Linked DNA regions of Homo sapiens: regions 2, 3 and 4 are each linked to region 1. Evidence: fine-mapped expression QTL. A gene starts in region 1. Each other region holds a variant in brackets. All regions are shown on one strand. Distances are between the middles of the regions.

Region 1 (8,103 bases):
TGGTTCACACGGGAGTGGTCCAGCGACAGGACCCGACACCTCCCCTCCGGAAGCTCTTCAGCAGGACCTGCCTCGGGTCCTGGGGCAGCTATCCTCCGGGGCCTGCCTGCAGTGAAACCATCAGTCCGTGGAGATGTTCACTGGATTCCTGACCAGTTGTGGGTCGGGCTCAACCCTCCCTCTGGGTTTTCAGGATTTGTAATGATCGCTCCATTTGTGTAAAATAGGCCGGCATTTTCTCTTGTTACTGAGATGTATTTTTCTATGTGAGTTAAATGTATAATTTGTGTAATTTTGTACATTAAAATGTATGCTTTTTCACAATTAAAGGGTTTTTTTCCCTTCTGAATGTTTTATTTATTGATGGTTTGTTACAAAGTGTTGTCGACCCTGACGTAACAGAAAAAGGCAATGGAGCTAGGATTCCCTTGATTTTTGGTGGGGAATAAATGCTTTTCTTGGTACTCAAATCCACTTTGCACAAATAATTAAATGATTTCCTTTATAATCATGTAGTGATTTCTGATTGCTGCTTTGACAGATGACCATGAACCCATTGCCTTAGAACAACTCACATTCATTATCTTGTAGTTCTGAAAGTCAGAGTCCCTGGGCTACAACCGAGATGTTGGCAGGGCTGCCTTCCTTCTGGAGGCTCCAGGGAGAAAGTGTTTCCTTGCCTTTTCTGGCTCCTGGAGTTGCCCACATTCTTTGGCTTGTGGCCCCTTCCTTCCTCTTCAAATCTCTCTCACTCTGACCTCTGCTTCTGTTCTCTGATCTCCCGTTCTCAGACTCCGACTTTCCTGCCTCTCTCTCACTTAAAAGGACTCTTGTGATGACACTGGCTCCACCAGGTGATCCAGGATCATCTCCACATCTTAAGATCTGTAAGCAGAGCCACAGAGTCCCATTTGCCATGTGGAGTAACATGGGCAGTAGTTCTAGGGATTCAGGTGTGGGCATCTTTGAGCATCATTATTCTGCCCACCACAGTCCCATATGTACTAATTTGGAGGCCACAGAAAAAAGCAGACATTTAAAAATCAAATGAGCCTGGATTTGAACTGCATCTCTGTCACTTGCTGGCCATGTAACCGAACATGTTTACTTGTTTAACTTCTCTGAACATCTTTTCTTATATCTGAGATGAGGACAATAATCCATTACTATATACCTGATGATAAACTACAATCCCCTTTCCTTCATTTTTTGAAAACATTCTTTTTGCAATGAATGAACGAATTTTTTTTTTTTTTTTGGTTTGCCGAAACAAAATCCACATCGGACCTGAACTGGCCTCTTGTCCTCTCCCATCTGACGTGTCCCTTTCTGTTCTCTGCCATCACCCAGGAAGAAGGTTTCATGTCTGACATGATGAGCTCAAGGTTTGTCCTTCACCAAATGTAGTGCTGTAATTCACTTATAAGAACTCCTTCCCAGGAGGACTAGGAGCAGTTGGAGGATGGGTTGGGGGATGGGGGAGGTCACAGCTGTCGTCAGGATGGGGGCAGTTATCTCAGGCTTCCCCTGCTGCCTCTGTTGGTCCCTGGCAAATATTGCTCCTTTCTGTCTCCGTGCAAGCTGGAGGGTGCATTTCCAACTTTATACCCTGGGTTTTGTTTCCTTCCTCCCTTTCTCTGTTGCGCTTGGGTTACTGACCTTGAGATGAGATGGTGTGGAAAAAACTCAGACAAACCTGAGTTGAAATCCCAGGTTAGTCACTTCCCGGTGGTTAACCTGAGCAATGGGCTTAAGGTTTGTCATCCTCAGCGCTCCAGCCTGAAGATGGAAGTGGCCTGGTTCGCCACGTGGGGCTGCCTGAGGGAGCCAGCAGTGTATAAGGCAGAGCATGATGCACGGAAATGAACTGTGTGTGCAAGGACCCTTATACACAGTATGCAGTTTCAGGAGGGTCCGATCGCCTCCTCTGCATGGGGAGAAAAGAGTGAGAGGAAGTGATATAAAGTCAGTGACACGCAGTGGGCGCCACAAAGGTGTGTTAGATGAATGTCGAATGATTAGTTGCCCAAGACTGCATGCAAAACAGGATTCTAACTCAACCACCTAGACTCTTCTGCCTAAACTAGGTCCCTTTATCTCTTATCTCCCAGTGGGACCACCTCAGTCAGGCTCTTGGGGAGAGGAAAGGGTAGTTGTTTCGATGTGGACTCTGGCACCAGACTACTCTGTTTAAACCTCGAAGTCTTACTTGCCAGCTGTGACCCTGGACAGGTTATTTATGTCTCTGAACCTCAGTTTTCTCATCTGTAAAATGAGGCTAAAATGGCAGTTTCAAGGTTGCTGCGAGGCATAAAAGAGTTACTATCTGTTAGGTGCTTACCATGGTCCGGGCACGTAGTAAACTTTCTATAAGCAGAAGCTATGAAGATCCTTTCCTGCTTCTGCATAAAGACAGCACTTTCTCAGCTCCTTCCTTGCGTCACTCCCTCTAGTCTTGGCAACTGCCCAGCCCTTTCTCACAATGGAAAGGGTTTTCTTTAGAAGCAGTAAGATTTCCATCACCACCAACAAAGCCTGAGAGACTGTGTCCTCAAGATGTTGAGAGCAGATTCAAGCATGCAGTAGGAGGCCTGGCCTCCAAAGTTCCACCTAACTCAGACTTTTGAGTTTTCTGATATTTCTCTGGGTTATGTCACCCTGAACATTTGTGGGGTTTTAGAAGAAATTTCTATGTGGTTTTCGACATGAATTGTTCTTGCCTGGAATGGGCTGGGAATAGTATTTCACAGGACAGAGAAAAATTTTCATTGAAAAATCGAAAACACTTGCAAGATAGCCTGGAGGCTGATGGGCCTCAAGAGGAGTGTCTGTGGCAAATCTGCACAGTGGACCCAGGGACACAAGGAGAGAGGAGCCAGGATGCAGCTGCGGTGGGTGGAAGGTAGATGGAGGCTGTGTGTGGAACTTTCTGTTCTCGCATTCAGCACTCTCTCCCCCATGAGAGTAAACACTTGTTGAAGACAGAGACTTAGAAATACTCATCTGTGTCCCCACACTAGCCTCTCTCTCAAGCACAGAAAAATAACTTGCTAAATGCCCACCGAGTGGATGAGCCCACGCTCTAGGCCTGGCTGAACCTCCTTGAGATTGAGGCCCTGAGGGAGCCATTTCACATCTCCCCTCCTGTTTCCTCTTCCAAGAGGGGGCCGGTAAAAATACCTACCTGCTGCACAGACCCCTTGTTGCAGGGTTGAAAGACAGTAGCTTCAGGGAGGTGTCAGCTGAGGCCACGGATCCGACGGCCCCAGGATCCTCAGTCCATGGGGCCCAAGAGTCATAAAACAAGAACATGAATCCATCTGTCTGTCTGGTATTCCTGGAGCTTGGTCACGCTGCGGGAGCTCTGGCTTGCAGCTGGCAGGGCCCGGGGTTGAAGGGACAGCTCCCAGCATGGAAGGCTATGGGTGGGGGGACATTGCAAGAAGCACTGATGCTCCCCTCTGCAGTCCCCACCCAGTCCTGACTTTGCTTGTCTAGACTGGCTCGAGGAGGGGGTCGGCAGCTGGCGATTCTGCCTCTCCAGGAAGTGCAGCTGGGACTGTAGGGTCCCCAGGGACTTGCAGGATCCTCTGCCTGATAATCGTGGAGAAATAAGGGAAGGTGTCTATAGGAGGCAGGTGGTGCCTGGCCTTAGAGGAGAGCCCCAGCAGAGCGACCTCCACGACAGAGAAACCCCAGAACGCCCAGACTGCAAGCTCCAGGAGCAACAAAAGTGGACTGTGCCCCTCGAATGAGGGAATATCTGTCTGTCTGGTTGACTGCCAGCTGTGTGTGTGTGGTCATCTCTGTCTCTGTGTGTCTTTCTCTGGAGCGTTTTTATTTAAGCTTTTGACTTCCTTTATTACTGGTGTGGACTTGTGTGTGGGCATCCTGTTGCCAGTTTATGATGCACATGTGTGGAATCGCCCTGAGCTTGCCTTTGATATTGGTGTGTTGTGTGGTGTCATTGGCGTGCACGTGTATGTGTGTGTCGCTGATTCTCATGCAAGAATGTGCTTCTCTTATGTGTCTGTCGGAGTGTGCCTCTAGCATGTCCCTCTTGGCTGCTGCACCACCTTTCCTGGCCCTTACCACCTCTTGGCCCACCATATGGGTGCTTTTGTATCCAATTCCCCTCCTTAGCAGGTCAGCTCCTGGAGGGCAGGCACTTGGTCTCTTTTGTCCATGGCTCTGTTCCCAGCTCCTACAACAGTGCTAGGCACTAGTGGGCGCTCAGCAAAATAAAACTGACGGAATGAACGGTGTGTCCAACGCATGTGCCTCTCCAGTTGTGCAATTAATCTTGGTGTGATACTGTGTGTGAGTGGGGTTGTGAGACAATGAGGATTTCTGTTGTGTGTTTGTAATGAACTCGGAATGTGCACAAGCATATATGTGTATGTGTGTGCAACATTGAGTATGGTGTGCATGATCGAGCCCCTGTGTATCTCTGGAGAGCATGTGTGATTGACTCTCGTGTGTGTGCCAGCATGTCTGTGCATCTCTCATGTGTTTGGCGTAATTGTCTGGTGTGCAGGTATGAACCCGCGTGTGCCTCCAGAGCGTGTGGGCGCGCGAGTGTACGCACACGGCTCCTGCCCCGCGCTCTCCTCGCGCCCTGCGCTCCGCCTGGGGGCGGAGAGTGGGGGGTGCGGCGAGGGCACTGCGGTGCCGCGGCCCGCCCTCCGCGCTGCGGCTCGGGAGCGTCACCGTCCCTCCCCGCCCCAGCCGCGATCCCCGCCTCCTGGTCCTTTGTAGCTGGCCGCGCCGCTAGCCCGCAGCCGCCCAGAGGCCCCGCCCCGGCCCCGCCCCGGCGCGCGCCACGCCCCGCCCCTCCCCTCCCTGGGCCGCAGTCGCGCCCGGGCCGCCGCAGGCCCGCACCGAGGCGCGGAGCGCGGCGCACGGCGGTGCCCAGGGCCGCGGGCGGGCAGGCGGGAGCGCGGTGGGTGGCCGGCCTTGGACGGGTATGGCGGACCGGCGGCGCGCGTGGAACACCGAGGACGACCTGCCCGTGTACCTGGCGCGGCCGGGCAGCGCGGCGCAGACCCCGCGCCAGAAGTACGGCGGCATGTTCGCCGCGGTGGAGGGCGCCTACGAGAACAAGACCATCGACTTCGACGCCTACAGTGTGGGCCGCCGCGGCTCGGCGCGCACGCCGCGCAGCGCTGGCCGGCCCGACGCGGTCGGGCTGCCAGGGCCGGGAGGCAGCGAGGACACGGCCAGCGACGTGAGCGAGCCCTCGGGCTCCGCGGTCAGCTCTCCCGGAGAGCGCGACGAGCGGCCGCCGACGCTGCGCATCCGCCGCCCCGCGCCCCGCGACCTGCCCCTCGGCCGGGACAATGGCCAGGTACCCTCGGGGCGCGCGCGGGCCAGACGAGGGGGGCGGGCCCCGGGAGGACCCAGGGCATGGGGCGCCCGAGGGCCATGCCCGGGCCCCGGTGTTGGGGCAGCGGCCGCCAGGCTGGGGAGAGCCACGGCGCGGCCCCTCCCCCACCTCATCATGCAAGAGGTTCCCAGAGCTGGGGCGACTCGGTCGGGGCTGGCCGGCGTGGTCCGTGAGACTCGGAAGGGATCGCCCGGGTCCAGTCCCGGCTCCTCTTCTACAGAAAGGGAGAGAGGTTCTGAGAGGGGAAGTTGGCTAAAGCTACCGCATGGACGCTTAAACGCGAAGGAACCTCTGGGATGAATCTAACCCAGGCCCCTCATTCTGTTTTGTGAAAAGAACTGGAGCTCCGTTCCGTGTTGGTCCATTCATCCATCCACTCAGTCGGTAGTAATTATAGAGCACCTACTGTGTGCCGGGCCCCGGGAGAGGTTCCGCGAGTCGCCTGCGGCCACACAGCTTAAAGCTGGAAGGAGCTTTTTTTCCGAGCGCTCCCCTCATGCTTGCTGGGGGGAAGGATTTGGTTAAGGATTTAGTTCGTCGGGCAGTTGGAGCCGTAAACCCCTACCCTCAAGCGCCAGTAGATTCAAGGGGCACTCCTGAGCTCCACAGCACACACCGATGTGCCTGCTTCACAGAGCAAGGTGGAGGTAGAGCTGGGATTTGAACTGGGGTCTCTGGCCTCCCGGACCTGAGCATGGGGCCGGGAGGATCAGGGAGAGGGAACGCTAGGGCTTGGGCCCTGCGGGTATTCTCTCTTGAGCTGGGGGTCACCAGGAAACTGGGGGAAGAAGGGCGGATGGACGGCGTAGCCTTTGGATGGACCGACGAGAGCCAGGGTCAGGTGCCAGAAAAACGGAAGTTGGAGCATCCGAGGGCTGGGGAGCTTTCGAATTGGTCCAGACCTGGATGCCGGAGAACTGCTAGGTGCCAGGCCCAGGGTAGGCGCTAGGTCCCTGGCTCAGCAACCTGGCCCCACCCTCCAGAAGTTCCCAGGCTAGGGTGAGCGACGGATTCATTGTGAGAATTAAATCAGTTAATGCCGGTCGGTAGTGAGCATTCAATAAATGTTTGTTGTTGACTTTTATTACAATCATTATCATTTTAATTAAACCTTCCCCTCTTAAATGCTATGAGTGACCCAAAGTGAGCCTGGAGGGAAGCAGAGCTTGATCGGGGCAGATATCTGGGAGGGCTTCCTGGAGGAATAGGAGCAGGGAACTGGTAAACACGGTGGTGGGCCTCTTCGGGCCCCATCCCTTCGCGGGCGGGCTGTTGCTCCAGAGCTCTCCGTGGTCCTGAAGCCGGAGCCTCGCGAGGGAGAGGTCCAACAGCAAGGGTGTGTGTGTGTGTGTGTGTGTGTGTGTGTGTGTGTGTATGTGTGTGTGGTGGTGGGGTGATCAGAAAGGGAGATGGTGCGAGAGTCCAGCTTCCTCTTCCCCCACCCCTTCTGTATCTCCCCCTGTCCACTACCTTCCCTGGTGGTCCGACCTCTCTTGGGATCCAAACTCCCGAGCCCGATGGGGAGGCTTCTGGGCCGCGGGCCGAGAAGCGGGACCAGCACCAGGGAATCCGGGTTTCCAGCCAAGGCGCTTTGCTCTCTTGGGCCTCAGCTTCTCCATCTGTCAGATGGGGGTGGCCGTCTTCTTCCGGCCTTCCTCAAAGCGTGGTGGAGTACTAGGGAGGCGAGGGCGCTTTGTGCACGGCCCGTAGCTGTCCCAAGGAGAGTTCCTCTGGAACTGCGGTCAATGTCACCAACGCCAGCATCTCCCCCAGGGCGCAGCCTGGGCCAGCCCCGCAGCTGCGCCCTGACCCTTGGGGACGCTGGTCGCTTCACCTCTCCCGTTCCTCTCCCCTACTCCTTCCTCTTCTCCCTGTGGTCCCCTCTGCCTTTCTCCATGGCTTCTCAGGCACCGGACAAAAGGCAGCGCCTCTGGCGCTCCCGGGGCTCCGAAAGCACTCGAGCTTCGCGACTGTGGAACTCAGGGGCTCGCGATCTCCACGGAGGGAGGGTTTTACTTTCTGCCGGCAGAGCGGCCTTGAGGCTTGGGTTACAGTGGGCTCGGGTTCCGGGGCGGGCCTCACCGCTCCAGGGCTTCGCAACGGGTGCCCCGGCCCTTCCCCCCCCGCCCACCAGGCTTCTCCCTGGGCTGCAGGAGGGGTTTCTGCGGCGCAGGCGCAAGGATTGCCGCTGCCGGAGGCTGAGCGGCTGCGGCGCTTTGTACCGGCGAAATCTGCTTGGGAGCAGCGATCTGTTTGGCCAGTGGCAGGCGGATGCTCCTCCCCCTGATACGCACGTGGTCTTGTCCCTTGCTGTAGGGGCTTTCTGCTCAGATCTCCAGACTGACCCCAGGGAACGCCCTGGTACGGGGAACCTAGGACTTAACAACTCCAAGGAAGGGAGTGTAGGAGTTGGGGAGGGACAGTGTCCCCATCTGCAATTTCCGGTCATTGACAGGGATTTTAGGCCCCGCTGAGAGCCAGGGATGCATGAATGCGTGGAGGGAAATGAGTTGTAAACAGAGTGTAGGGGAACCTGGCATCTCCATGCTGCTTTGCTGCAGCTAATATGTTTTGCACCCGGGGTACATCATTTTACCTCTGTAAGCCTCAATTTCCTGTCTGTAAAATGGGAAAATTATGCCTAGTGTTCCTGGGATACTGAGCTGGCTTCTCTGTGAAGCTAAAACCTCACCTCTATTTTAAGGCCCAGGTGTCTC
Region 2 (8,103 bases), 20 kb before region 1:
GTGGACCAGTTAGGAATGTGGTTCTGAAGTGAAATTACCCAGGTTTGAATTCCAGCAGCACTGCTTTCTGTAACAGATGCAGAGCCTTGAGCGAGGCCCTCCCACTCTGTGACTCCACTTCCCCATCTGTGAAATGGGACGTGAGGTGTGAATTGTGCTACCTGGATTTGAACTGGCTGACGTTCTTTCTGCTGTGTGATAACTGAAGCTCACCATCCCTGCTGCGGTGGGAGGTGGTTGTATGATATGACCTCGCCTCCTCTTTTGTTTCTTGTGGTTGAGTTTTGAGTTTGGGGGGCCTACTGTTTCTGAGGGCTTCTTCCCGGAGCTTCCTGACAGCAGAAGTGACAGCACAGTTTCTTTATCAAATGTTGCCCTTTCGTTACCTGCTTCACCCTCGGGGCCCTAGAATCATTTTTCTTAGTCGTCATTTGCGTCGGGCCAGTCCCCGGCTCTCTGATGAATGACCAGCCGCATCTCATTGCATTCTGTGCCAATTGCACGCCACCTCTCGCCTGGGCCCCTGCTTGGCCTGGGATGATTTATGGAAGTCGAAGGCAGGATGACTTCTAATGACCTGTGCAAACCAGGACCGGGGTGGGCACAGCTGAAATGCTGGAGTGCTTGATAATTAAATGCCTTCTGGGGTTGGGTGTGTGCTTTCAAGGCTCAAGAAAGAAACATACTATAGCTTTCAGTAGAAATACAGAAATTGGCCAGGCATAGTGGCTCATGCCTGCACTTTGGGAGGCCAAGGTGAGCGGATCACGAGGTCAAGAGATCGAGACCATCCTGGCCAACATGGTGAAACCCTGTCTCTACTAAAAATACAAAAATTAGCTGGATGTGGTGGTGCGTGCCTGTAGTCCCAGCTACTCAGGAGGCTGAGGCAGGAGTATCGCTTGAACCCGGAAGGCAAAGGTTTCAGTGAGCCGAGATCGTGCCATTGCACTCTAGCCTAGTGACAGAGCGAGACTCCATCTCAAAAAAAAAAAAAAAAAAAAAAAAAAGAAATACAGGAATTGAAACCTACGACTTTCCTGCATCAATGGCTTCAGGTTGTTATTCTTTTTAAGAAGGATCATGTATATTTTTCAGTTATACTTTCCTGTATATTATGGTTCACAAACACATTTTATTTTAAAGATTTAAAATGTCTAGCTTTTGCAGCCCCAGGCTGGCTAAGCAGGGCTGTGTGAATGAGCTCACCTTCTCAGATTTTAGACAAGTTACTCAATGACTCTTGAGCCTCAGCTTCCTCATCTATAACAGTGGGATAAGGATACAGTAGTCATACAAATTGAGAATTATATCAAAAAATGTGGGGGCCTCTGGTAGCGTAGGCATGATGTACGTGATCTGGAAATCTTGGATCCACTTTCCTGTGGCCAAATCTTTACTTAGGTTTGGCTAATTTGGTGTCGAACCAGGGAAACTTCCAACTTCTAGGGAAAGCCAGCTCTGGATTTCCACCCTCTTCAGTCCACATAGTGATGTGTTTGGGCCCGATGGCACTGTCCCCAGCCTGCCTCTGCTCTCAGCTGCAGTGCTTTGTTGCTGGCAAGCTCAGACTCTGCTTGTGCCCACCTCAAGCAGAGGCTCCTGTCCTCTAAGCAGAAGATCTGCGAGGCCTTCTGTGCTCTTCACAGAAGTGCTCTCGGGGCCGTGACCCTATTTCCTGCAGGAGTGACCTCAGTACCCATCTGGATATTGTCTTCTCTGCCCTCCCTGTCTCACCTCCCTGCTCCCTCACTCCTACTTCTGGGATCTCCCCCCAAATAAACCACCTGCACCCCTGTCTGGGTCTCAGGCTCTGCTTTTGAGGGTGCCCAATCCAAGACAGGCAGCTTTTAGAAACTTGCAGAGTAATAGCTTTGCCCTTGGGTGAGTCACCCTGCCCTGAAGGCAACCTGGTTCTCCTCTGTGTCCTGGGGAAGAAGGGAGTGGGCTGCGATGTGAGGGAAAACAACCCAGTGCCTGGGGTCTGAGCTCTGGGGGCAGGTCCTGGCTCCCAGCCTTCTCTGTGGTGGGCAGGGACCCAAGGCTGTCTGTTCGGCGTGGTTAAGCCCCACCCCTCTCCTAGTTGATTGGTCAACACCCAGACAAAAAATCCAGGCAAGGCAATGGGAATTCTTCATTCTGAAACTATGATTCTCTGTGCATGGGCCCCCCAGAGTAACCAGGAGCTGTTGGTGCGTCTGTTCCCTGTCCAGTGAGGGAAGCCAGGACAGAATAAGAAAGAAGTCACAGCCCACAGGAACCAGGAAAATGGTAGGGCTTCTTGGCAATGCTTGGGTCCCTGGTCACTACTGTGTGGAGCTGAGCTCTGCCCCTGTGGTAGCTGCACACCCATCCCTTGTTACAGGACTAGCCTTGCCTTCCTGTGCCATTTTTGCCCAGGCAACTTCAGTTTGGTTCCTTTCACAAGCAGCCAAATTGTGCCTGCAGATACAAAACCTGGTCTATCTCAGTGAAATCTATGGTTCTAGGTACAGTGTACTTCCCAGCAGGTAAGTGTAGCCTAAAAGGAACATTCAGGAAAAAGAGGAGAGGGAAGTAACCTGGATTGAGCTTCTAGAATGTTCCAGGCACTGAACTTACCTCCTGTGATGGAAGAGTGAGTCAGGCAGGAGATGCTTAGCTGCAAGAAACAGGACACATCCTATTGAAACGAGCACGTGTTTATTACCCACTCATCAGGGAGACTGAAGTGCATGGCATCAGGGCTGGTTTGGTACCTTGGTGATGCTACCGACCACTCAGTTGCTTTCCATCCTTCAGAACCACTGTCTTCAGTTTGCTAGCCTTTCTTCCTGGTGGTCACTGCCTCATGTCACAAGGTGGCTGCTGTGGCTTTAGTCTTCACAACTGTGTCCCAAGACGAAAGGAAAAGGCAAACCTCCAGCATACATTGGCCAGGGATGCCCACAAATGTGTCCCATGGTCATTCCTACCTGAGAGCCAAGGTCCCTCTTTCCAAGCTCTAGTCTAGGAGATGACAAAGGAGAAAGGAACTGGGAGTAGCTGTTGGTTGGCTAATGAACCATGTCTTTCCCTAGTAGCATGTGTGCACATAACGGTATCAAGAACAAACTGTGTCTGAGAATGGCAGGAACTGGATATGATCAAACCTTAAAGCGTGTGGACAAAATGATGGGAAATGGTGATGTTGACAGGCAAGATGAAGGGGGTCCTGGCATGGCCCTAGGGACCACTGAGGCTCTTAAGGCAGGTGGACCCAGGAAGGGGGTATTTCAGAACTAGATTTACAGTCTAGAAAGATCCCTCTGGCCATTCCCTGGAGGGTCGTTAGGAGGAGAGTTGAACTGGAAGCAGGGCAGAGACATTTGCGGTGCCTGTCCTGTATATTGAAGATAATATTTTTAGGTGTAGAATTTAGAGTAATTACTTTCTGAGCTACTCATTGGATTAAGGAAGTGACCAGACAGACAATCAAGGTTAAACTAAAACTCATTAGAAATACAGGAGAATTTATCCTAGTAGGGAAATAGACTATGAGATGGCACCTTCATCTGATTTTTGATTTGATGGAAATGGCTTTTATCTGAATTTCTGTGTGCATAAGCAAATCCCAGGCTACATTAACTTACTGACTCAGCCTTGTAAAACAAGCTCAAGGTTATTATGTCCAAGTGAGATCAAGTACAAATAACTTTAATGCTATAGAATAGGACATTATACCCTCTAAGTATTTCTAACAAACGAAAAATGAGAAGCACCATCGCACACATTTCTTCAGATAGATCTGCTGGCTTTGTAAGAGAGGACATGGTAAACTTATATAGGTATTAAAAATTCAAACCGTGATAATTAATTTTAAGTGATGTATGCTTATTACAGAAAAACTAGAACACAGAGAAAAGCAGTTAAGAAAACATTAAAACCCATAAAAGGCCAGGCGCGGTGGCTCACACCTGTAATCCCAGCACTTTGGGAGGCCGAGGCGGGTGGACCACAAGGTCAGGAGATCGAGACCATCCTGGCCAACACGGTGAAACCCCATCTCTACTAAAAATAAAAAAAATTAGCTGGGCATGGTGGCAGGCGCCTATAGTCCTAGCTACTCAGGAGGCTGAGGCGGGAGAATGGCATGAACCCGGGAGGCAGAGGTTGCAGTGAGCCGAGATTGCGCCACTGCCCTCCAGCCTGGGCGACAGAGCGAGACTCCAAAAAAAAAAAAAAAAAAAAAACACCCATAAAAACAAAAACAAAATCTGTTAACCTCCTGGCTCATATTCTTTTTTATCCCTGCGGGTAAGTTTCCATACAATATTCATAATCATAGTCAATATACAATTTTATCTACTTTTTCATCTAGTCTTGTAGGCATTTTTTCATGCTATCATTGTCTTCATAAACTTTACTTCTCATGATTACATAGCATGAACCTTTCTCAACCCTTGTTATTGAACATTTGGGCTGCCGGGGTAATGAGATGACTATCATTGTCTATAAATCTTTGTCTTCATAGAAGACTATTTCTTGGAGATTGATTCTCAGAAATTGAATTATTGTCTCCAAGGGAATAAACATTTTTAAAGCTGTTGATACCTATTGTTGGTTCAGAAATTCAAACTTGTGCTAAAAGTTAAATTAAAAGCAGACAATGCAGCGAGAAAGCCCCGCTTTCTGTATTCTTTCCCTTGGCAGCCTGGAGGTTTGGTCCCAACGTCTGTGGACGATTTACTGCCTTATTTCTAAATAGGATCAATACACCCAGGAGCCCTAGTGTAATGAGATTCAAAGGGACCCTGACTCCTGAACGAATCCATCAATTGGACCGGAATGTTAAGGACAGCGAAAGTGAAATGGCTCTAATGAATCTTGATATTGAAACAAAATATTAGGGCATTTTGAGAAGAAAGCATTTTATCTCATCT[A/G]TATTTTCCATTCCCCATGTGATTAGGAAGCTCATGGAAATTGAACAGGCTCATCTGTTTCATAGTATATGCTATTTCTACACACCAGAGCTTTCTCTGACCCTCACTACCCTCACTCAAAATGTGTTCCCAGAATAGTCATTGCCTGCCTGCCATTCCCCAGGCACTGTGCAGAACACTAGAGACACGGCCTCCTCCTCATCAAGGAGCTATGGTCTGGAGTTTCCAGTAGTTTCCCAGGATCAGATGCCAGCTCTGCCATTGCTAAGGCCTCTGAGTATCTCCTTCTTTACACCAGCCCCATAAGGTAGGCGTTGTCATCCTCATTTTACAGATGGGAAAACTGAGGAAGAAAGAGGTTAAGTAACTTGCCCTAGGCCACACAGGTAGTCGGTTCCAAAGCTGGTTGTATTAATAAAATTTTATTTTCTATAGTTTGTGATGTTTTGCCATCTTGGGGCCTTGTTGGCCAGAGAGATACGGCCCCTGCCAGGGCTGGCTAATTTCTAGAGATGGAAATGACTCCCCTGTGAGCACGCCTTTCATATGCAAGCCAGACAATCTACAGCCTGGCAGGTTTCCAGTCTCCTCCTTTATCTAACATACCAAGCCAACATTTCCCCTGCCACATGTCATCCCAGGCCCAGGTGTCAAACAACTAGAGAACATGCAAAAATATAACCCAGAGCATGCAACAATTTTAAAACTCTCCAGTACTGGGCATGCTCAGGCTTGCCTCCCCTGCCTCACCCATTTCTTCCTGCAGAACTCACAATAAAGGCTCTGGGCCAGGCTCTCTCTGCACTCCTCTGCCTCCTGCTTCCCTCTGTGGCCTTGCATGGTGTGGCATGCCCCTTCCTCTAGGGAACTGTGAGTAATAAACTCTTCTTTCAAACACAGTTGTCTCTATGTCTGTCACATTACCATACCCTATTAAAACAAAATACTGGGTGCATTTTAGAACACTGGTGCACTCTTTCACCATCATACCCCTTTTACAAGGACAGATACATTTCCTTGAAAGTAATTTGGTAGAAACACTGCTGAAAATGCTTTGTACACTCATCCCAGCTCCTTTTCTTCATAAAGGCCTATCTGCTGCAGTTATAAAAATATTTTCCTCATTCCAATTTTTTCCTATTACATTTGCAAAATTGGTATCCTGCTCTCATTCATTCATGCATCCATTCATTCATTCTTACATGTATGTCTTCCCCAAATACACACACACACACACACACACACACACACACACACACGAGTGGAGTGCTAGACTGGAGCTGGCTCTTCCTGCATGCCTTTTGAGAGCCAATTGCATGCGTCTCTTACCAACATATCAGCAGCTTAAAATCAGCCATAGTAGGAGTGTTTACACCACGGAAATTAAAAAATGCCGAAAATCAGGTCTGGTATTTTTGTTTGTTTGTGTTTGTTTGTGTGGTTTTTTTGTTTTTTGTTTTTTTGTTTTGCAAGACGGAGTCTCGCTCTGTCACCCAAGCTGGAGTGCAGTGGTGCAATCTTGGCTCACTGCAACCTCCGCCTCCGGGGTTAAAGCGATTTTCCCGCCTCAGCCTCCCAAGTAGCTGGAACTACAGGCATGCACCACCATCCCCAGCTAATTTTTGTATTTTTAGTAGAGACGGGGTTTCACCATGTTGGCCAGGATGGTCTCGATCTCTTGACTTTGTGATCGGCCCGCCTGGGCCTCTCAAAGTATTGGGATTACAGGCGTGAGCCACCACGCCTAGTGTTTTGTTTGTTTTGTTTTTGTTTTTGTTTTTGTTTTGAGAGCCAGTTGTTAAACATTTGCTAGCTCACCACTGTGGTTCTCTATTTCTGTTCCCCACCAGGGCCTGAGAGCAGCAAGTTTCCTCTTCATCTTTTTATCTGGGGCAGGCAAAATGGATCCTGCCACCTTGAGTGGTGAAGCAGGCCAAGCTGGGCCTTTCTGCATGTTTTGTCATTCTGATGGACCTGTAGGCAGCCAGGGAACCAGGCTTACCTATCTGAAGAGAGGCCCCTCTCTGTAAAGGGATCCCTTGCTGGGGTTGTAAGTGACATGTGAAGCATTCCCTCCCTGGCTTCACACACATTCTAGCAAGTCTCATTGTAACTTCACTCATGAACGAATTCCCCAATAGTTGGAGTTGTCCATGAAACAGACTTCCCTGGCACAGCTGGTGGGCTCCCCATCAGAGGACACATCCATGTTTGGGCAACCATCCACCACAGATACTCGATGTGGGGGTTCTGGTTTTGAGAAGGGCCAGAAAACCCCACAAGTTCGAAAGGCACAGAAAGGGAAGAGGCCGGGCATGGTGGCTTACGCCTGTAATCCCAGCACTTTGGGAGGCCGAGGCAGGTGGATCATGAGGTCAGGAGATCGAGACCATCCTGGCTAACATGGTGAAACCCTGTCTCTAGTAAAAAATACAAAAAACAATTAGCCAGGCATGGTGGCGGGCACCTGTAGTCCCAGCTACTTGGGAGGCTGAGGCAGGAGAATGGCGTGAACCCGGGAGGCGGAGCTTGCAGTGAGCCAAGTTCACACCACCGCACTCCAGCCTGGGCGACAGAGACTCCGTCTCAAAAAAAAAAAAAAAAAAAAGAAAGAAAGGGAAGAAACCCATTGGCTCTGATGAAACATCTGTTAGACAAATAGGGACATGGTGCTACTTTCAAATTCAATAGAGAGGTATCCCCCCCACTCCACTGACAACAACAAAAAAGAGAGCACCTGAGGGCAGGGACTTTATCTTATTTCCCCTCAAACACCAAAAAAGCTTCTTGCCCAGGGCTACACACATAGAAGATTCTTGAAGAATGCTGGCAGGGGGTGAGGTAGAGAGGTTATTGGTTGAGGAACTGGGGAGGCCACTCCAAGCTCAGCCATGATCGAGTGGGGTGATTATTGTGGGGTCATTTTCTCTTTGAAAATCTCTTTCCTCAACTGATTATACAAGGACACACTCTAGATAATTCCTTAGGAATAACTAGTATGTTAATTAAAAACACCACAATTCACATTAATTCTGTTTATAGCATAATGTGGATCATAAACACAAACATTACTTAAAATATAAAAATTAGTGACCAGATGGAACAGATTGACGAGATTCTTAAATTTTGAAGCTTTTCAAAAGGCTTAAATTTTAGATTTAATTCCCTATGAGAAATGCTAACTATCCCCTGAGGAAATATA
Region 3 (8,103 bases), 75 kb after region 1:
GGATCTGGTGATAAGTTGAGTACAGGAAGGCTGTGTTGTAGACCATGAAGAAAGGCAGACTTACAGCTTATTTGCTTTCTCTTTTTGATTTTCCTCAGTTCCGCCGGCTCAACTTCCCCTCCCTGATAAGGACTCTATCCTTCCCACCTTTCAGCATTATCCACCCTTCATGATTTACTCATTTAATAAATATTTGTTGAGCTCCAGGCACTGGGTTTGCTGCTAGAATTTTACATCTTTATGCAAGAGAATAGGTAAAAGTAGAATGGATGGTTGGTTTTGAAAGATTAAAATTAAGAACCTCTGCACACCACCCCCCCCCCCTTCAGATCCACCTATCGCCAATGAGGGAAGTAAATCCAGCTTGCGGAGTTCACATGCACATGCACACACATATGCACATGCATATACAAATGTGTACACACACAATATGTAAAATACCTTTGGAGTGTGGGACAGTGTGCCTAAGATCATGGGCTTTGAAAACCAACCAGTTTGGGCTTCAATCCTGGCTTCCCCACCCAACACCTGTGTCCCGCAAGACACGTGGCCTGAACCTCAAATTGCTCACCCGTAAGTTGGGAGTACAAACACCCCCTTCATAGTATGATTGTGTGCCCTAAATGCAGTAACATGTTAAAGCACCAAATGTGCGCCTGCACACAGTAGGCACTCAGTAAGTGTTTGATCACCTGTCTCAGGAATGTCGGATTTTACTGGGGATTTTGACAAGAACACCACAAGGTGGTCAGGGCTGAAGGTGGGGGGAGCCCAGGGACTGAGGGGCACAGAAGAGGGAGCAGTGGACTCTGTGGAGGCCAGGGAGGCTTCCCATGGCTGGTCCTGGACTGAGCCCTGAATGAAGGTGGGTCCAGTGGAGTGCATGGCAGAGTACATGGCCTCCAGGAGCAGCGTGGAACTGATGCTAACAGATCCCATCCAGCAGCGATTGGCGCTCTCTTTCAGGTGCCCAGATAGATGACAACAATCCCAGGCGCACCGGCCACCGCATCGTGGCGCCCCCTGGTGGCCGCTCCAACATCACCAGCCTCGGTTGAACGTGGATGCGCGGAGGAGCTAGCCTGAAGGATTCTGGGAATCATGTCCATCCCTTTTCCTGTCAGTGTTTTTGAAACCCACAGTTTTAGTTGGTGCTGATGGAGGGAGGGGGAAGTCGAAGGATGCTCTTTCCCTTTTCTGTTTAGGAAGAAGTGGTACTAGTGTGGTGTGTTTGCTTGGAAATTCCTTGCCCCACAGTTGTGTTCATGCTGAATCCACCTCGGAGCATGGTGTTTTCATTCCCCCTTCCTAGTGAACCACAGGTTTTAGCATTGTCTTGTTCTGTCCCTTCCACTTCTAACTCCACTGGCTCCATGATTCTCTGAGTGGTGGTTCCTTTGCACCCTGTAGATGTTCTAGGATAGTTGATGCATGTTACTAAATTACGTATGCAAGTCTGTGAGTGCGTCTGAGGGGACATCGCCAAGGACTGACTGAGACACGATGCCGAGACCTCAAGCCCTGAGGGGCAGTCCCAAAACCCTTACAGTGAAGATGTTTACTCATTGCCCCCACCTCTGGTCCACACTAGAAAGAAGCTCGCCCCACCTCCACCTGTGAGATCCGTGAATTCTCGGAATGGCAGGGGAAGCCTTGCACTAGGTTGCAGAGAAGCATCCTCCACATCCTGTGTCAGAAACCCTGGTCTCCGTGGCACTTGTAACTCACCGTGCTGTCTTCTGGTCTGTGTGTGTTCTTCAAGCCAGCTCTAGGCTTCAGGCCGAGCCAGGTTCACACTCAGAAAGAGGTCTCCCCATCCCCATTCGGGGCTGACGATGGGGGGCTGATGGCTGCCCCTGCGTGGCCTGAGTCCTGGTCCCTCTGAGGCAGTTGACGGGGCAGTCAGATTTTTAAAGTTTTGTACAAAGTTTTCCTTTGTAATCACTCCCATTTTTACTTAACAACCAACTTGTTGTGGCTCTTATTTCTGAATTCAAAGCTTGTGAAAAAATAAAGAAAATGAACTGCCCACTGACCTGACTAGGGCACTTTCATTTCAGTGGTGGTGTCTGGATTGGGTACGAATGCTTGGCAGTCCCCCCGCGTGATAACGAATGGTGGTGGCTGCTTCCTGAGGACTCACTCTTGGTAGAGACTGGTGGATGTGGGGGTGGGAGGAGAGATTCAGTTCATGACTTCTGAAGGCTGAGTTCCTGAGACCCAAGGAGGCGAAGAGAGGGAAGACGGCTGATGGGCGGGCTTCCACAAAATAGGCTCAAATCTTGCATTGATTCCCTCCTGTTGGGCCTTTCCTGGCTCTCTTTCTTCTTGTATTGTATGGATCAGCCTCAGACTGGAAGCTCCAATCTCCTAAACTTCACATTTCTTCCTTCCATTTCCATGAGCTAGAGATACACTAAAGGACGGATAAAAACAGCAGGCAAAGTTGCTTGCTTCCATTAGCTGTTGTTAGTAATAGTGATGACAATGATGGTGGTGACAGTAATGATGGTGGTGATGGTGATGATGGTGACGATAGTGGTGATGATGATGGTGGTGTTGGTGATAGTGATGAAGTTGCTGGTAATGACAACAAATACATGGGCTGATAGCTGTATAGCAGTTGCTATATGCCAGGTGCTCTATGAGGTAGGGATTATTATCCCCATTGTACAGATGAGGAAACTGACTCAGAGTGAGATCAATAACTTGTTTAGGATCACACACTTAGGAAGTGATGGAACCAGGATTTGAATCCAGGACCCAGGCACTTTGGGCCCTAGTCCAAAGCTCCTTGCTCCTAATTACTGAGCTCCAAGGGCATTTGAGGCAGATGGCTTTGGATGCTCTGGTCCCACATCAACGCAGGGCTTTTCATGTACCCTTCTCCTCCCCCGCTCCTCGGCTTCGTGTGGATACCTTTGTCAAGGTTGAAAGAAGTGTTGGCTCAGGGTCAGTTATAGACTTCCTTGAAACAAGGTTAACTAACTACTGAGAAAGACCAAGAATGGATGGTAAGGATTTTTGGATGGAAAGACCAAGAACGGATGGTAAGGATTTTTGATGTTCGGCTTTGGCCCATTTGGACTATTAAAGGGAAACTTCCAGAAAAGTAAAGTTGGCAGGATGAAGTTATCCAGCCTGTTCTCTGGGCCTGGCCTCCTCAGTCCTGTCAGGGTGGAAGTGGAAGCAGAAGCAGCCCTAGCACCTTCTCTAAGACAGACTCTGACGGGGTGCTTGCCTGACTCCCAGGTCATGGGAGCCACTGTCCAACCAGCATAATCTAGAGCCCATGTCGAACTTTGGGTTCCCCAGCGCCTCCAAGAGGCACAGTTACAGGGGACAGGAGACCTGGTAGCTCAGATAATCCTTAGTTCTTGGAGACTGAGCTGCAACACTCCTTTTAAGGCATGTGACTTCCTTTTACCTCTTGAGATTTTGGGAGGAGGGAGAGAGAGTTTCTCAGAAAGTTTTAGGGGAAGGCTATTCTCATTCATTCATCTGCAACCCAATTCTCCCAGCCATGTGACATAACATACTCACAGGCCCAGGGATTAGGATGTGGTCATCTTGTTGGCAGGGACGGGGAGCGTTATTCTGCCTACCACAGTAGTCTTCTGGGTTTTTTCTAGAAGTTTTATCTTTCACATTTAGGTCTCTGAGCCATCTCTCAATAATCTTTATGTACAATATAAGGTAGGACTGAAGGTTCTCCATTTCCCATATGATCTCCCATTGACCCAACACCATTTATTGCAAAGACTATTCTTTCCCCCATTAAGATGCAGTGGGGCCTTTGTTGTAAGTCAGGTGATTGACCCTTCTGATTCAGTGGTCCAGAAGTGTGCTGCCAAATCAATGTTGAACAATGGGTGAAGGTGGGTGGGGTAGAAAGCCCTTGTTTGTAGTGTTTGCTAGTTCTGTGGACCCCACTTCTGTTACCGATTTTCTGTCTTAGTCCATTTGGCATCACTGTAACTGAATACCTGAGATGGGGTAATTTATAAAGAAAAGGAATTCATTTCTTACAGACTTTGAGACTGAGAAGTCCAAGGTTGGGGTGGTGCTGGTGCATTTGGTGAGAGCCTTCTTGCTGGTGGGGACTCTGCAGAGTCCTAAGGCAGTGCAGGGCATCACATGGTGAGGGGGCTGAGTGTATTGGCTCAGGTCTCGCTTCCTCTGCTTATAAAGCTGCTGGTCCCGCTCCCATGATAACCCATTAATCCACTGACTCACTGATACATTAATCTATGAATGAATTAATCCATTCATGAAGGGAGAGCCCTCATGACCCAATCACCTCTAACAGGCCCCACCTTTCAGTACTGCCACATTGGGTATTAAGTTTCAACATAAGTCTCTTGCCATGGCCAATTTCAACCTATCGACATTAAGTAAATGAGTTTGGAATCCAGACCACTTAACTGTTGGCTCTGATGTCCCAGGAAGGGGTGGTTCTGGCCCCTCTGCATTTGTTGGTGTATTAGTCTGTTCTCACTCTGCTGATAAAGACATACCCAAGACTGGGTAATTTATAAAGAAAAAGAGGTTTAATGGACTCACAGTTCCACGTGGCT[A/G]GAACTTCACAATCATGGCAGAAGGCACGTCTTCATGATGGCAGGCAAGAGAGAGAATGAGAACCAAGTGAAAATGGTTTCCCCTTCTAAACCATCAGACCTCTTGAGACTTATTCACTACCACAAGAACAGTATGGGGGGAAACTGCCCCCATGATTCAATTATCTCCCACCAGGTCCCTCCCACATCACGGAATTATGGGAGCTACAATTCAAGATGAGATTTGGGTGGGGACACAGCCAAACCACATCAGTTGGTTTGTCTATCTTTGCCTCCAGATTGCATATTGACTCTTAAAAAGTGAGACAGAATGGGCAAGGTCTTTGCACATACTTTTCCTTCATCTACGTAAAGCCAAACCATTTTCAGATGTCACCAGTAGGGTCTACCATGTTCTAGCCCCCAGGGTTGGTCTGGCCACCTTGATCATAGACAGTGGACAAGAGAAGGTGCTACCCTTATCCTGGGGCCAAATCTCTATAGACTCAACAGAGCTACTCTTCTGACGTAAGTGCGTAACCCTCCTCTGTGTTACTCTTTCCAAGGCAGAGTGTGGCCGTGATGCCCATTGACAGTGTCATTTGCCTAAAGGTTCATTCCAATCAAGTCCATTTATGAAGTGAAAAACCATGAAAAGAAGTTTCCTAAGCAAAAGGGGCTCTTAGCAAGTTGAACTTTCTATTTTTCTCTTAGTGCAGACCTGCAGAGATTTTAGAGGAAAAGACACAGGGGCCCTGGTGCACCTGGCTTCAGAGTAAAGCCTCTCACTGGTAGTCTGTTCCCAAGAGGAGGAAAGCTGTGGCATGGCTGTGCGTCCAGAGTCCATCTGGGAATTTTCTGGGAGATCTATCAAACCACTTAGGCAGCCTGGCTATCCATTATGCCTGGATGTGGACTTCAAAGTCTTTCCCTATCAGACGGGAGCCAAACACCACGTGGGTAGCTTGGGGTCCCAGCTTGCAATGGACAAGAGCCCCGACACGGTGCAGGAAGCCTCTATAGCCACTGCCCTCCCCCATCCAGGCCACTGTATTTGGAAGGAAGAATGTCGACCAGGACCTCCATGACTCCAGTTTCATAGCAAAAAAGAACACTCCGTATCCCAACGTTCACTTGTAGCCATGTGGGCAAATGCCTGGTGCAGGGGATTTCTCCTGGGCCAGGCGGCCCTGTGACCTTTAGGCTGGGGCCTCAGCCTCACTGATTCCTTCTCCCAACCTGCCCTGCCTTTGCCCAGAGCATGACGGAGGCAGCTAAGTGGTTTCCAGAGAAAGGAGAACATGGACAGGAGTCAGTTCTCTAGGGTTGCCTGGGCCCAGAGTTCTCAGGAGGTTGAAGGGTCAACTAAGCCTGAGACGGCAAGTGCCTTGGTCCACGTCCTCTGAGACGCAGACACTGAGCCAGGATTAGATGTGGGCAAGATGTGTACTGGGGGACATATCTGTGAGGCAAAATGAGGAGAGAGCCAGAGGAGGCAGAGCCCACAGATTTGCGATGCAGCTGACAGCCCCATGATGGAGGGAGAGAGGGAGGGGAGAGAGGGGAGAAGGGAAGGGAGGGAGGGAAGGGAGAGAGGGGAAGGAGGGAGGGAAGGGAGAGAGGGGAAGGAGGGAGGGAGAAAAGAAGGACAGAGGGGGTAAGGAAAGAAGGGAGGGAGGGGAGGAAGGGAGTGAAGAGAGGGTAGAAAGGAGGGAGGGAGGCAAGACTCTGGTGCTGCACAGTTCTACATCTCAGCAGGTAGAGCAAGAAGTCCTGGGGCCCAGGCTGTCCTCTGGAGGAGCCCTGTCATGTGGGCTAAGGAGGCCTCCACATCCCTGCCTCTTGCAGGCACTGGGAGCACCCTGCAGGAAGTGTGGCCTCCATGCTCACGCAGGGAAGGATTTCTGAGCACGGCAGGAAATCCCAAGGATGTTGGTCGTTTTTGCTCCTTGCCGTTGGGGACCCAAGAGGTACATGTTCATGGCCACCACAGCCAGAACAAGGCGGATGAAGAGCTCACCTCAGACTAAGTCCAGCGGCTGGACTGCAGGCTATGTCGGTGGGCAGGAGGTGCATCAGGAAGTGGACCAAGTCCATCAGCGGGAGCCCAGTGGGGAAAAAACAGATCCCCAGGCCTCCTGTCCAATCTGCTGACTCAGAATCTCTGGGATGGGGCTAAGAATGTTGTTTTTAATGAGCCCCTGGGTAATGCTGACACACAGCCAAATCTATAAGCCATGGGGGGAAAATAGTATTCCTGGCCTCCCTCCCTCCCTCCTTCCTTTCCAATCCATACACCACAGGAGGAAAGTATATACTCAGCGTTCCTCCCTCCCTTCCTTCCAAACCAGTTGCCACAGGAGGAAAGGAATATTCCCAGGCCTCCCTCCCTTCCTTCCACCAGGTGACCATGAATGCCTGTTATATGCCAGGTGGCATGTGGCCGGTCAATGGTGTACATTCCAGGGGGGACGTCAGGTGCGAATCAAATGATTACTCAAAGCACCGAACTGCACACTCTGTTAAGGGCTATAGAGGAAACATTTAGGGGAGAATAATCCCATCTCCCACTCCTCTGGTTTCCATAGAGGGAGGGGCTTCCACTCTCTGGGGGACAGCACAAGGGACTTCCCTGGCCCCTCTCCCTCTCTCTTTTATTCTTCTCTGGGGAGGAGGAGAAATACCTGATTGGCCAGTCTGGGAAGGATCACTCCCAAGACAGTGCCTGCCTCTGGATCGATTCGTTCCCCCTATAAATCACGCTTTACCCTCTAAACGGCCACATTTCCCCCATTTCCCGTCTCCCTATGAGGGTGTGGAAGCACCTGGACCTCACTGGTTTGTGGGGTCATCACTCTCCTGCAATTCCCCATGCCATGCACGTTACGTTGGAATGCTTTTCTTTTTCCTATTGGTCTGCCTTTGGTCAATTGTTTCTCAAGGAGCCTTCGTAGGGTGGAGGAAAAGCTTGCCCTCTGTGCCCCACAGCTGATTCACTGTAAAGCTCATGGAGCTCACACTTCTGCCACCTGTGCACAGACCCCACCGAGACCCGGGAGTGGGCTTAGCCACGGGTTCACTGACACATTCCTTACAGTTTACAATGCCACAGTCAGATCTTTTAGCTGCAATCCTTAAGACCACTGTTCCCTTTCCTGCTGATGCCACTGCATATCAGGTGACACTAGGGAGGCCTGGGACATTTGGAGGATCTGGGTAAGGGCCAGTTGAGTTGGGTTTAGTGGGATTGTTTATGTGGGTCTCACTGTACACCTCTGTGTATAGTGATGAACTTGGACAAGAAATAAAGGAAGGTTATTTATATGCTCCCCCACCGACCTCACCCCAGTCCCAGCAGCAAAGAACACAGGACCTAGAATCTAAGGGGGGCCCTGATGTTGTTCAGGGTTGGGGGCAGAGGGGGATCTCTGGAGATGTGAGTCCTGACTCCATGTGAGGAGTGGCTAGGAGCCACTGGGCAGAGGGCTGGGGAGGGGGGCAGGGGTCTTCCAGAAAGAATGCACATCATGAGCAAAGGCCCAGTGGG
Region 4 (8,103 bases), 180 kb after region 1:
ATGATGGGAGACAAAGTCTCTTGGACAAAGCGGCATTTGAGAAGGAACTTAAAAGAAGTGAGGCCATGAGCCATTGAGATATCTCAGGGAGGAGCATTCTAGAGACAGAATAGCAAGTGCAAAGGCCTTGGAGGCAGGCCCATGCTGGGCATAGAGAGAAACCTGTGTAGATGCAGCAGTCTGTCGTGGGTCTTGGGGTGGATGATGAAGCCAGAGATTTGGGGGGTTGTTTACCAACCATAGCAGACCAGTACAAGGGTCCTGCAAAGAAGAACCCAGTCAGATAGTCCTACAGTAAAGACATTGAGGAAAAAATATATATATCCCACAGAGGGAGCATCAGCATCACTTGAAAATGTCTAGAGGGTCACTAGCCATTTGAGGACAGACTCTAATATGAAAGATAAAATCCAAAACAAACAAAAGGAAAAAGCAAGCAGGGAACGCACTACACAGGGAAAAAAAACTTTAAACAAATAAACAACTAAAATATTATCAGAGAGATCAGAGAAGGTATTCCATTCATAAAATAAGGACAGGATAGAACATTCTCAGAACAAAAAAATGACTCTTCAAAATTGAAAATATGAAAAACTCAATACAAGTATAAAGTTGAGAAACATCTCTCCAAAGATAATGTAAAAAAGACAAAGAGAATCGAAGTGAGAGAGAAAGACTAAGATTGGAAGCCCAATTCAACCTAAAAAAGTGATAGGAGTTCTTGGAAGAAGAAAACGTATAAAAGGAAAAGAATCATCAAAGAAATCAAGAAAATGATTCTCGATCAAAAGGACGTTCCAAATGCCTGGCACCGTGGATGACAAATGACTTTCACCAACACCATCGTGGTGCAATTTCATTTACTAGGAGCAAAGGTAAAGGTTCTTTAAGATTCTACAGAGGAACAAAAGGAAAAGAGGTTTCGTGTAAGGTATCAAGGATCAGAATAGAATCAGTTTTCTCAACAGCAACCATGGAAATTATGAGATGAAGCAGAGTCCCCCCTTTTTAAGGGCCTGCAAATCCCTTGCCCTAAGCCTGGAAATAAAGGAAAATCCTGACTTTCTTCAAGGGAAATTATCAACAACTTGATAAGCAAGAAGGTAATAGTCGCCTAAAACAATAGCCAAGGAAGTTAGAGTCAGGAGATGTTTGGTTTCCCTGCAGAAACTAAAGATAACATCTTAACATATGTCCCTGAGTTGTTTTTCAGAAACCTGGACCCCCATCCAATGGATCCACTCTGAGGATCCATGGCTGAGGTCCTCAGCTGCCCCTTATCTGAGATCTGAACTCTGAGCACCATTCTTTGTTCTAAAGCTCTTCCTGGGGAGCCCAGAGGAAGTCATGACCAGGAGCCTGAGCTAAGGTTCTTTTCTGCCGAACCTACATTTTAAAACAAAGCTTCTCTTCCTTCACAAAATTGCAAATCAGAAAATCTTTGAATCTACCTCTGACCTGCAAGCCTCCACTTCAAGATGTCTGGCCCTTTTAGGCCAAAACCAGTTGTCACCTTCATGTATTGATTTACAATTTTGCCTGTAACTTCTGCTTTCCTGAAATTTACCTCTACCTTTAAAAACCTCACCTGGAAGTCATCAGGGCAGTCAGGATTTGAGCATGAGCTGCCTAGTCCTCCTGGCTTGGTGCACTGTGAATAAACACCTCCCTTTTTACCACTATAAAACCTCAGTGTCGCTATCTGGTCTTACTGTGCCAGGTGAGTGGAACCCAGTTTGGTTCTACAACAGCTAGAAGACAATGGAGGCCGGGTACAGTAGCTCACGCCTGTAATCCCAGCACTCTGGGAGGCCGAGGCAGGTGGATCACGAGCTCAGGAGTTCGAGACCAGACTGGCCAACATGGTGAAACCCCATCTCTACTAAAAATACAAAAATTAGCTGGGCATGGTGGCGCATGCCTGTAGTCCCAGCTACTCAGGAGGCTGAGGCAGAAGAATTGCTTGAACCCAGGAAGTGGAGGTTGCAGTGAGCCGAGATTGCACTACTGCACTCCAGCCTGGGTGACAGAGCAAGACTCTATCTCAAAAAAAAAAAAAAAAAAAAAGACAATGGAAAAATGCCTTCGAAATTCTGGAGGAAAATTATTCCCAATCTAATTATTCTTACCAAATTAAGTATAAAGATAGAAGAATATATTTTCAGACATAGAAGTTCTCAAAAGAGTTGCATCCATCCCTTTTTGAAAAAGCTACTGAAGGATGTGCTCCAGGCATGCAATGAAATTACCTAACAAAAGGGGAGTGCCAGGGAATCCCTGAAACAGGATTCAACCCAGAAGAGACGTGAGAAACTCCCAGCATGATGAGTAGCTGCTTCTCAAACTTTAAGAACATGTAAATCACCAGGAGGGCTTATTAAACACAGCTTGCTGGACTCATCCCTAGAGATTCTCCTTCAGTGAGTCTGGGGTAGAGCCCAAGAATATGCATTTCTATCAAGCTCCCCAAGATATTGATGCTGCTGGTCTGGTCCACACTTTAGAGAGCTGTCTAGAGAATAACCAGCTCAAACTAGAGCTTGTCAGAATGTTTCTGGGAGAGATATTTTTCTCAAGAAGATAAAATGGATCAAATATCTAATGCATTCAAATGTCTTGAACACAAACGCACATATGTGGGGGAGAGTTAAATGAATGATAAGTACACAGAATCTAAGCAAATGAAAAAACCAAGGCCAGATGTGGTGGCTCACACCTGTGATCTTGGCACTTTGGGAGGTGAAAGCAGGAAGACTGCTTGAGCCCAGGAGTTTGAGACCAGCCTGGGCAACATGGCAAAACTCTAACTCTACAGAAAATAGAAAAAAAAAAAAAATTAGCCAGGCATGGTGGTGCAAGCCTGTAGTCCCAGCTACTTGGGAGGCTGAGGCGGGAGGATCACCTGAGCCCAAGAGGTCAAAGCTACTGTGAACTGTGATCATGCCACTGAACTCCAGCCTGGGCAATCAAGTGAGACCCTATCTCAAACAAAACAAAAAACAAACAAAAAACAAAAAAAGAGAATAGCTATTAATTTCAGGAAAAACAAAATGTTGTGCAAGAAAAGAAGGTATTCATGACCACAACTGATCCTTAACTTGCAGTAGATAATGTTTGTAGAATTGTAATAATGGAAACACTGAATACAAATTTAACCAAATTCCCCTATAACCTCCGTATTGAGAGTGTGGTGGTGGTGTTGGGAAGAGTGGACATTTTATGGAGGAAGGGAGGCAACAGAGCTAAGTCCTCTTCCTTTCCACAGTGGAGGGTCAACGGCTATTGCACGCAGCCAAAAAAAAAAAAAAAAAATGCAAGCAGCAGCAATATAGGCACATTATTTAGAAATGGGAAGTAAATTCCCAAAATAATCAGCTGAAAGAGTTAACAAGGCCACTGTTGAGAAGTAGAAAATGGGTGGGGCTATTGCTCCTTTTGAACTAATACTTTAAATTATGTGCATGAACAACTTTGATGTAAATAAAACAGGTTTAATGATGAAATAAGTTAAAATAACAAAATAAAACAAAAACAGCAAAAGGAAAGCAATGCAAGATAAAATTGTGACTTGGAACAGAGGAGGAGAACAAACAGTGCCTACAAAGCAGGGAAGTACCTGATCTAGCGTGGAAGGTTAAGGCTTCCCTAGTTAAGAAGGTGATCTCTCTGGGTCCTGAGGGCTGAGCAGGATAGAGTCTAAGAAAGGACCGCGCAGGCGGAGAGAACAGATGTGCAGAAGTGCAGAGGTGTACGGGGAACAGCGAGGTGTCTTGAGTGGCTGGAGAGCAGGATGAGGCAAGTGGCTGGGCACCTGTGCATCAGGGTAGGTGCTCAGGGGAAGGTAAGCCACTGTATGCACCATGCTAGAAAACTGGGCATTATCTTTATTTATTTATTTATTTTTTAGATGGAGTTTCATTCTTGTTGCCCAGGCTGGAGTGCAATGGCATGATCTTGGCTCACTGCAACCTCCACCTCCTGGGTTCAAGCGATTCTCTTGCCTTAGCCTCCCCAGTAGCTGGGATTACAGGCATGCACCACCACACCTGGCTAATTTTGTATTTTTAGTAGAGATAGGGTTTCTCTATGTTGGTCAGGCTGGTCTCTAATTTTTTTTTTTTTTTTTTTTTTGAGACGGAGCCTTGCTCTATCGCCCAGGCTGGAGTGCAATGGTGCGATCTTGGCTCACTGCAACCTCCGCCTCCCAGGTTCCAGCGATTCTCCTGCCTCAGCCTCCTGAGTAGCTGGGATTACAGGCTCCTGCCACTATGCCAGCTAATTTTTGTATTTTTAGTAGAGGCAGGGTTTCACCATATTGGCCAGGCTGGTCTCGAACTCCTGACCTCAGTTGAACAGCTCGCCTTGGCCTCCCAAAGTGCTGGGGTGACAGGCATGAGCCACAGTGCCCAGCCTGGGCATTATCTTTTGCAGGCAGCCAGGAGTCACTGGAGGTGTTTAATCAGGA[G/C]AATCATATTGTCTGACATACATTTTATAAATAAAAACTAGAGGGAGGAGACAGGAGGAAAAGAATCTCATTAGAAAGAAGGTTGTCGCAAGGATCACATCAAACTGTAACAAAATCCTATTAGTCCTACTTTGAGCCACAGACCCCTCCATGGCTGCCACCCTGGTCTGAGCCACCATCACCCTCAACTGACTAGCTGTGCAAACCCAGATGGCTTGGTTAATCCCGGTAAGCCTCAGCTGACTCAGCTAGCAAATGGGATACTAACCACCACCTCACCAGGTAGCAGATACTTAAGGCTCTAGCTTTGGGGTTCAAACCAACTAGGGTTGAAATTCAGTCCCACTGTTTACTCATCGTGGCACCCTGGACAAACACCCTTGCAGAGCATCCCCTGCCTCACTGTAAAGTGGGGATAATGGCAGTTCCTCCACCTCATGGGCTGGAGGATAAAGAACCAGATGTCTATAAACATTGCACAGGACACCCAGCCAAGTCTCTGTGTGTTACTTCCCTTTCTCTCTCCATGCAACAAGCCAGCATCTCTTAGTGTCTCTTAATCACCAGCAGGATCTGACAACCCCCAACTCACCTACGAGCATCTTGCATTATCTCAGTTTCAGCCCTCATCAGCTCTTTGCGGTGTAATGCTCCCCATGAGTCACCAAATTCCCCTATATTCTGAAAGAGCCTGTGCCTACATGGAAACCGCACAAGATCTGTCTCATCTTCCCACGGGCCAGAAATGGGGGTAGCAAGACCACGCCATCTTGTTTCTGATCGCGCAGACTTTACTCTCCTCCCACCCCAAAGAGGCAGAAGTTGCAAGGACCTAAAATAGTGGCCATACCACTATTCATGGAATGCCTGCTATATGCCAGGTGTTGCCATGCACAGCCAATTCCATGAGGGCCACTTGCATAGGAAGCATCCACTGGTCTCCTTCAGGCAGCCACCCCGACCCTCATCCATGAAGAACACAGTGGCTTTGGGGTTAGACACTTCTGTCACTTTAGTAAGTTGCTTAACCTCTCTGTGCCTCAGTTTCCTCATCTGCAAAGCAGAGACAAACTGTTGTGGAGATTCATTGAGATCATTTAGGGAGAGGGTCTAGTTCAGTGCCTGGTACACAGCACTTAATAAACGCTAGCATTGCCAGCGTCCCATCGCAGACTCCCCATGCGGTGTCATAACCGATAGTTTACTTGCAAACTTGCAATTCGTCCTTCTCCTTGAGGTTCACAGCCTCAAGGCAGGGTCTCTCCCGCTCATGAATGTCGTCCCTAGGCCAGTGACTGGCTGTAGAAGGTGCCTGAAAACTTTTACTGTGGGGTGAATGAAAAAATGAATGCCAATGTGGCAGCTGGGACTCAGGCCAGGCGACGTAACCCACACCGCAAGGATGGAAGAGGCAGAAGCAGGAATAGGCATTCAGGCGTGGGAGCCCCAGCCGTCCTTCTGTCCACCATGGCGAGCAGGGCCAGCGTCCTGTCCAAACCCTTGGTGCTGCAGATGAGGAGACCGAGGCGTGGCGCAGTTGGGCTGCTGTCAAGGATCACCCAACGGAGTGGGATGTAACAGGCACCGCAGGGGACCCCAGGCCAATGCCCTTTAGTCACGCCGCCACCTCCCTCCTGGAGCAGAAGGGGAACCCGACGCCTAAGCGGTTGCGTGCGAAGTTCCCAACCAGGCTCAAGGAGTCGCAGAGCCGGGGCTCCGGGCCCGCAGGACCCAGAAGCCACGCGCCCCGCGCTCCCCGCCCCGCCGCTGTCTGCTCGGCCGACCCACCTGGTGTCGCGTGCGCTGGCGGCCCGCGCGGCAGCCAAGCCAAAGGCCGAGGCCGAGGCCGAGCGCGGCGCCCAGCAGCACGGCGGGGGCCAGCAGGGCGGGCGCCGGCCGCAGCGCGTCCCGCCCCAGCAGCAGCCGCGCGTCGCTCTTGCAGGCCGCCCCGCCGCGGGCCATCCGGGGCGCTCAGGCTGCCGCCCCGCCGCATCCCGCCGCCTGCTGCACCGTCCCCGCCAGGGCGGCGACGCGGGACTTGGAGCCCGGGCGGGCCAGGGGCGCGGCCCGCTCCGCAGACTTTCTGGCCTGTGCAGTCTCCCGACTCCTGCTTCTCTCCCCTTCCCTGCTTCGCCGAGCCGGAGGGAGGAGCCTGGATCACCGCTCAAAACTTTCAGCCACCCCCGCCCCAGCCCTGCCCCTGCACTGAGCATGCCCAGAGACAGACGCGCCTCCCAGCCCCGGACCCTTCCGGAGGGGGGCCCGGTTTCCACCCCTTTAACTTTACTGAGGCTTAGAAGGCTCCTTTAAGTTTTTTGAGGCTTAGAATATGCTACGCATTTAGCTTAATGATCTCATTAACTTTCTCAATAACCCTCTGCGGTGGGTGCTCCGCCCATCCTCCTGATGAAGACGCTGGGATCAATGCAATTCCAACCCCCTGCCCTTGCCCCTAACCTCTACCCATCAACCTTCCCGGGAACACACCGCCCTCCACGCCTCTGAACTTGCTCACGCGAAGACTCCTGTTTTAATCTTATTTTGTCCCAGGGAAGGTCGAGACAATGGGTGGAGACACCGTTACACTCAGTCTCCACTAGGAGGATGGGTAAAGGGATCCTTACACCCAGACCCCACTGAGACGATGGGTAGAGAGACCCTTACACCTAGTCCCCACTAGGACCAAGGGTAGAGAGACCCTTACACCCACTCCCCACTGAGACAATGGATAAAGAGACCCTTACACCCGCTCCCCACTAGGACCAGGACACTGCACCATCCTTCATTTACTCAGCACTTGGAGAGAATCTGTTGTGTGTGTGTTGCAGGCTGGGGGATAGGCCAGCCACAAACCAGGCAGTGTCCAGGCTAGTGAGTATCTCACAGTTGTTTAGAGTGATAAAAAATTAAAGGAGTTCATCACTGTGTTTGCTTTAAACAAACATTTATGGGGTAGCTACTAGATGTTTGCTTTTGTCCTGGGTGCCTGGGTAAAGCACACATGCACATGCACGACTGCACACTTGCACTCAGGGGCACACACACACACACACCTACCCTGTGGAGCTTAATTCCCTGTGTGGGCCGGGCTAGGGGACACCATGGGGATCTGCTTCAGCAGAGGAGGGCTTTGTCCTTTCAGCCTAGATGTCCAGCTTGTTTCTAGTTTGTTTCATCATTTCCTCATGGCAAGATGGGAACTGTTATCCAAATTCTTCATCTTTTTTTAATAAATGAAGAAACTGACAGCTGGAGAGGAGAGGTGACTCATTTGCAATTAAGGAGTGGGGCAGAATTCTTGTCTCATTTACACCTGTGTCTGGCTTCAGGGCAAACTCTCTGCTATGTGGAGCTTCTTATATATTACCTTAGAAGCATCTCCAAGGTTCCTGGGGACATGTATGGGGGCAATAACTTGACGCTCTTGTTTTACATTTCCATGAATGCTTAGGCTTTAGTTTTTAAAATGTGGTGTTTGGGCCAGGTGTGGTTGCTCACGCCTGTAATCCCAGCACTTTGGGAGGCTCAAGTGGAGGATTGTCTGAGCCCAGGAGTTTAAGACCAGTCTTGGCAACATAGTGAGACCCTGACTCCATAAAAAATACTAAGGAGATTTTTTAAATGTAGGGTTATTTGCT

Which allele goes with the higher level. Alleles are on the strand shown, and positions count from the first base shown. SD is a standard deviation of normalised expression in the study named. Not every link is listed here.
For the expression in testis of the gene that starts at base 4,850 in region 1, allele C in region 4 goes with a higher level than allele G (small effect, 0.26 SD a copy in GTEx).

Evidence for each region. PIP is the estimated chance that this variant, and not a neighbour inherited with it, causes the effect.
Region 2: its variant is fine-mapped to the expression of CRMP1 in lung (TOPMed, PIP 0.95).
Region 3: its variant is fine-mapped to the expression of CRMP1 in tibial nerve (GTEx, PIP above 0.99).
Region 4: its variant is fine-mapped to the expression of CRMP1 in testis (GTEx, PIP above 0.99).

Annotation. Positions count from the first base shown.
Region 1 is chr4:5,889,833-5,897,935 of GRCh38, reverse strand. CRMP1 (collapsin response mediator protein 1) reads left to right here and starts at 4,850. Exons shown (of 14, transcript NM_001014809.3): 1 at 4,850-5,347. The coding sequence starts at 4,967. It also overlaps a transcript of C4orf50 not described here. RefSeq lists enhancers at 6,245-6,988, 6,989-7,733.
Region 2 is chr4:5,910,314-5,918,416 of GRCh38, reverse strand. It overlaps a transcript of C4orf50 not described here. Among named protein-coding and RNA genes, the nearest start is that of MIR378D1, 9.0 kb to the left of the region's middle. RefSeq lists an enhancer at 5,171-5,796. The variant A/G (reference allele first, on the strand shown) is at 4,902.
Region 3 is chr4:5,814,715-5,822,817 of GRCh38, reverse strand. It overlaps CRMP1 (collapsin response mediator protein 1), which reads left to right. Exons shown (of 14, transcript NM_001014809.3): 14 at 967-2,054. The coding sequence ends at 1,058. It also overlaps a transcript of EVC not described here. Among named protein-coding and RNA genes, the nearest start is that of CRMP1, 74 kb to the left of the region's middle. The variant A/G (reference allele first, on the strand shown) is at 4,578.
Region 4 is chr4:5,709,705-5,717,807 of GRCh38, reverse strand. EVC (EvC ciliary complex subunit 1) reads right to left here and starts at 6,607. Exons shown (of 21, transcript NM_153717.3): 1 at 6,254-6,607. The coding sequence starts at 6,427. RefSeq lists enhancers at 4,964-5,273, 5,859-5,928 and silencers at 6,399-6,548, 6,599-6,648. The variant G/C (reference allele first, on the strand shown) is at 4,466.